2 separate regions of the Homo sapiens genome follow, and region 1 is linked to region 2. Evidence: fine-mapped expression QTL. A gene starts in region 2. The other region holds a variant in brackets. All regions are shown on one strand. Distances are from middle to middle.

The links.
Region 1: its variant is fine-mapped to the expression of WWC2 in whole blood (INTERVAL, PIP 0.96).

What each region holds. Positions count from the first base shown.
Region 1 is chr4:183,147,976-183,150,882 of GRCh38, forward strand. The region is part of intron 1 of WWC2 (WW and C2 domain containing 2); the gene reads left to right. Among named protein-coding and RNA genes, the nearest start is that of WWC2, 50 kb to the left of the region's middle. The variant T/TAA (reference allele first, on the strand shown) is at 1,646.
Region 2 is chr4:183,097,607-183,100,513 of GRCh38, forward strand. It overlaps WWC2 (WW and C2 domain containing 2), which reads left to right and starts at 1,651. Exons shown (of 23, transcript NM_024949.6): 1 at 1,651-2,016. The coding sequence starts at 1,886. WWC2-AS2 (WWC2 antisense RNA 2) reads right to left here and starts at 1,593. Exons shown (of 1, transcript NR_024008.1): 1 at 1-1,593. RefSeq lists an enhancer at 410-704 and a silencer at 410-704.

The DNA.
Region 1 (2,907 bases), 50 kb after region 2:
TTTGAGTAGTTAAAAAAAAAGCAGGTTATAAGAAATCTTAGAACTCTGTGAAATTCCAGCTCTGCTGTGAAATGATCTCATTAAAGCCAACCTTATACTCTGCTTTACCTCCCGAGTACAAAAGATACATGTAGCGTGTGAGGTTGTGGCCTCTCACAGTACCTTAGGAACGCACGTTTTCCCCTTCATGGACAAATACCTGACTTGGCAAAACTGAGTTTTTTTGGGATATAAAGTACTAATGAAAAATACTGCTTAAAAGAAACTATCCAAGGTTTCATCTGGTGATGATATTATTCCTTATTTATATCATTGCTGATGAATAGTGAATTTTAGTAAACTTGGTCTAGGAAGCTTGTTTAACCTTATTTAAATTAGATGTGAATCTTAGATTTTAACTAAGTAAATGTATTTAAGATTATTCTACTGCTTGTATGTCCTCCTCCCCATTTTAATATAATGTAAAGAACATTGATATCCATCTCTGATTTTCTTGTTAAGCTATCTTAATGTTTACTGAATTCTATGAGTATGTTCCCTGCTGCCTTCCCCATTTCTCTGCTTAAATCAGAAATGGCTTTCCTCCTCTCCAAAGGTGGCACTATATAAATGACATAAATAGGCTCAGGATTTCAGAAAATGATTGTATGTCTTCGCTTCTTTCTAGATATCTTTGTTGTAGCTCTCAGCTCATAAGATAATGATCTGTGTTCCTATGCAACTTCTGTTCCCAAATTTGAGCTCCTTGCAGCAAGGACTTTCCTATTCAACTAGGAATTTCTAGAAGAAACTGCTTCTTTCCTGTGCCAGGGTGTCCCGAATGAGTTAGAAAAAGCATTTAGTGTAGATGAGCAATTAGGAATGGACCCAGCCGGGCACAGTAGCTCATGCCTGCAATCCTGAGGCAGGAGGATTGGTTTAGGCCAGAATTTTGACTTTTTAAAGTATCAAATCCAAATTTTTTTTTTTTCGTAATTGGAGTAGTGGTAGTAGGGAAGGGCCTTATTTACTGATGCTCAAAGTGCCTCAGTACATACTTAGCTTAATGGATAATCTGGAATTACCTTTAGAATCTCACTCATCTAAGTCTTTTTTTTATTGTAAAAAATAAAACCTATAGAAATCCACAGAAGACAAAGTAGTATGGCTTTAATGAATTGTCATAAAGCGAATACCCTCCTAACACCAACCAGAACACTAGAACTTTGCCAGCCACCCCAGAAGCCTTTTACAGTCCCCTTCTCATAAAAGTAATTATCCTGACCTTTATGGCAATCATTTCCTTGCTTTTCTTTAGGAATACATGCTTGGGTGACAAAATGACAAATATCATAGGTGGTTGTTTCTTTTGAAAAACAAATCTTTGGCCGGGCGCGGTGGCTCACGCCTGTAATCCCAGCACTTTGGGAGGCCGAGGTGGGCAGATCACCTGAGGTTGGGAGTTTGAGACCAGCCTGACCAACATGGAGAAACCCCATCTCTACTGAAAATACAAAATTAGCCAGGTGTGGTGGTGTATGCCTGTAATCCCAGCTACTCAGGAGGCTGAGGCAGGAGAATCGCTTGAACCTGGGAGGCGGAGGTTGCGGTGAGCCAAGATCGCGCCATTGCACTCCAGCCTGGGCAACAAGAGTGAAACTCTGTC[T/TAA]AAAAAAAAAAAAAAATCTTTAAGTATTTTTTTAATCTATAGCTTCTCTCTTTTTTTTTTTTTTTGGCTGATAGAATCCCCATTGTGCAAGTTTGTATTTCTTGTAAATTGATAGTGGATCTAGAGATTTGCTCACATTCAGAATATATGTATATGAACATTTCGAAAGCACACAGTGTCTGAGATGTTAGCAGCCGTTGATATCTACTGTCTAGATCCGTGAATTAATATGGGGTTGCAAAACAATGATCTCATTCAGTCATTTCTTTTTCATTTGTTTGCTCAAACATTTCTATAAACTGGGGTTTCTCTTCATCTGCTTCTTTGTTACCCAGTAGTATAGGGTACCCAGGAGGCTTCTGGGTTGCTGGGATTTACTAGCTATGGGGTTCTCCTGGGACCTCTTTGAGGTTGAGAAACTGAACATACCTAGAAAGGGCCATTTGATAGGCATAGGTCCAGTGACAGTGTCTTGGTTCTTAGGTTGGACAGGGAGTGAGAGGTCCTGGCCTGCAAGCCTGTTGCTGCCATTGAGTACTTCAGAAGAATGGACTCTGTACCTGTCCATTTCAGCTGCCCAGTTTTTGGATCTATTCCTGTTTGTTGACAGATTTAAAACCTTATTTTGCTATATGAAACTACTAAATATCATCTGGTCCTATCGCTTGCCATTAGTAGTTTAAGAGATTTCAATAGGTGAAGAGATTTCCATCTTACAGAGAGTTCAAGGTCATCAGAGGCCAAGTTCATAGATTTTAATCTCAAAATCAAAGTCTGAGTTAGATTTGCATCTTAAACAGAGTTCAAGGTCATCACAGAAGCCAAGTTCATCAATTTTAATCTCAAAATCAGAGTTTTACATTGTACGTTGATGTCATTATATAGTATTAGGTTTGTTTTTTAAAAAAAGATTTTAAAAACTAAACTTTTTAAAATTATTATACTTTAAGTTCTGGGGTACATGTGCACAACATGCAGGGTTGTGTGCTGTGTTGGTTTGCTGCGCCCATTAACTCGTCATTTACATTAAGTATTTCTCCTAATGCTATCCCTCCCCCATCTCCCCACCCCACAACAGGCCCCAGTGTGTGATGTTCCCTGCCCTGTGTCCAAGTGTTCTCATTGTTCAATTCCCACCTATGAGTGAGAACATGCAGTGTTTGGTTTTCTGTCCTTGCGAAAACCAAACTAGTTTGCTCAGAATGATGGTTTCCAGCTTCATCCGTGTCGCTACAAAGGACACGAACTCATCCTTTTTTATG
Region 2 (2,907 bases):
CAAACACGACCCCTTTCCTCTTCTAGGACCCCTTCCGTGAAGTCTGTTCCAACCCTGAGCCTCTCCACCTTCGAGATTGGCCGCAGATGCCCCGACGGGATGGCCTGGGGAGCCGAAAGCTGTCCCCAGCCCCGGACAGCTACTGCCCACGCCGCGCAGGCCAGCCTCACACAGTAGCGAATCTCCTTCACGCGACTTCCTCGCAGGCCTGTGAACCCGCAGGGGAGGCGGAGGTCGGTTCAAACCCTGCGAGAGCCCCTGCCCAGCGCGGAGTCCTGCACACGGTGGAAAGTCCTTACGCATTAGCGGGCAGGATTAAACGACTTCACACCACGAGGTGCAAGACTGGGCTTCGGGGCCTTCCTCGGTGTTGCTATTTTAAAAGAAGCTGCTCAGTAACCCAGAAGAAGATGACGGGGGACGGTGGTGTAGACCCGGCTGGAGAGGAGTCCAGGGCCTGGGAGGCGCCCCCTCTGACTGAGGGGCTGGGGACCCTGAAGCTTGGCGTCCAGGCCCCGCCAGCGCTGCACCCGGCATTGTCCCGCCTGGGGCAGGCGTCCGGTCCCTCGGCAGTGCGGGCCAGCACGTACGTAGTAGCTGCTGAATAAATAAATGCCTATGCAACAGGGAACGTCCCGGCCCACCCCGGCCGGGCCAGGGCCTAGGAAGGGCGGGCGTCCGGCGCCGCCGTGGGTCCCTCCGGCGTGGCCGCCCACACCTCCTGGCCACGGCGGGGCTGCGGTGGGGGGACATCCTGGGGCGGGCGGCTGGACGGAAGGGACTAGAGTCGGGGCGCGTCCACGGCCAACCGCCCCGAACCAAGCAGGGGAGGCCAGGGACCAGGAGCTTCCGGGGCCCCGCGGCTGGAGCGCCCGGACGCGAAGGGGCGGCGGGTGACGGGGCGCGGTGCGGGCGGCTACAGGGCCGGACGGGAGTTCCTCCGCTTTCCGCCGCGCGGCTCGCGGTCTCAGCCGAGGTCATCGAGGGCCAGGAGCCCTGGCGGAGGCCCCGCCGTCCCGGACCCACCGACGCACTCCCAGGGCTTGGCGCTTTCCCACCACCCCGGACCGCCCTTGGGGTGCCGGAGGGGCTCGGGGCGCGGCGTGGGGAGCCTTTGTGCCCTCTCCGCTTGTTGAGGTTTTTTCTCCGGAGGAGAGCTCCCCGCCCGCCACCCCTTTCCTCTCGAAAGTTTTGTGGTTTCCCTAGAAGACGAAAGAGGTTGAGAAGGTTGCGGAGACTTTTGCAATCTTCCCCGTCCAGAAACTCTAAAACCTCTCGGCGTTTGGCCCAGGGGAGCTATCTGGGGTCAAGGGGAGGGAGCTGGCCGCACATTCCTTCGCCCGCCTTCCTCCCACCTGGAGCCGCGGCCCCGCGGGGCAGTGCGTCCGAGCTGGTGCGGCGACGCCGGCAGCGGCGGGGTTAAGCTCAGGAATGCGGCGCGAGGAATGCGCATGCAGATGAGGCGGGCGGGCGCATGCTAATCGCATGCAAATGAGGGGCCCGCCGCTGCCGCGGCAGCGCCGCAGCTTCCCGGATCCGAGCCCAGACGGCGGCGGCTCCGGCAGCCTGGGCGCCGCGACCCTCGGCGGCCAGAGGGGGACGGGGCGGAGGAGGAGGAAGAGGCGGAGGCAGCGGCGGCGAGGGGGAGGAGGGTTCGCTCGCCGGCTCCGACGCAGACATGGTGGACTGATCCGCAGCGGGGCCGCGAACAGCGTTTCCTGAGGCACCTCCCGCGCGTGGTTCCGCCGCGCCCCGCGCCCTGCGCCCCTCAGCCCCTCGCCGGCGCCCGCGTCGCGGGTTGGCAGCCTAGCCCGGCAGCCGCGTTCCCGCCGCGTCCCGCGCCCGGTACCTATGGAGGCGCCGCTCGCCGGCGAGGCCGCCGACCATGCCTAGGAGGGCCGGGAGCGGTCAGCTGCCGCTGCCCCGGGGCTGGGAGGAGGCCAGGGACTACGACGGCAAGGTCTTCTACATTGACCACAACACCAGGAGGACCAGCTGGATCGACCCCCGGGACAGGTGGGCGCCGGCCGCGGGGGCGCGGGCCCGTTCGGACACGGCGGCTGTTGTCCCGGAGACCCGGCCGCGCGGGGGGCTGGGGCGGCGCCGGCCCGCGGTGCCCCGAGGGGTCCCGGGAGGGATGTGGGGCTGGCTGCTCCGGCGGGGCCGAGGAGCCGCCCGTACCCGGGCTCCTCCGCCCACCGGCTTCCCGACGCCCCTCCGGGGACCCGGCCCCGAGGCAAGGCTGGAGTCGCTGCCCCGGGCCGACGCCGCGCGCCAGGCTAACGGACCCGAGGGGCCACCTGAGCCCTGTTAGGAACTTCCCTAGGCTTCGAGGTGCCCACGTGGAGGCTGCAGGACACCTTCGGCCTCTGGGCGGCGGGGGTGGGCTAGGGCCTCACTGCCAGTTGGGGAACGAGCCCTCCGGGCCACCTGTGGCATCCCTCAGGCCGTCCTTGGCGCGGGAGCCTGGGCTGCGAGCTCTTGGCGGGGGCGCCCAGACTGGCCGGAGGTCCCGAGCTGGGAAGGGGCTCCCGCCCCCCGCCGGGCCCTGCTAGTGGGTGTGACTGACTTTGCCCCTCAGAGTTTAAAAACGCGCGTTTGGGGGTTTCGCTGTCTGTCGTTAGTCTTCACCTGAAAACTTGAACCGACTCCCAGATCGGGAACAGGCATATTGTGTTTGGAAGGGAGATGTAGTGAAATTAACGTTGGGTATTGAGGCACTCTGATTTGAGCTTAGCCTGGTTTCTTTGTTTTTTGTTTTTTAAATTGGTTCAGGAACTGAAGGTTCACAAATGTTTCTGTGTCCCATATTTTTTTTACCCTTAAAATTTCTTAGAATTATTGTAAGAATAATAGGAGGTATTCCTAATTATAAATTTGTAAATTATCCATTAAGGAGATATTCCT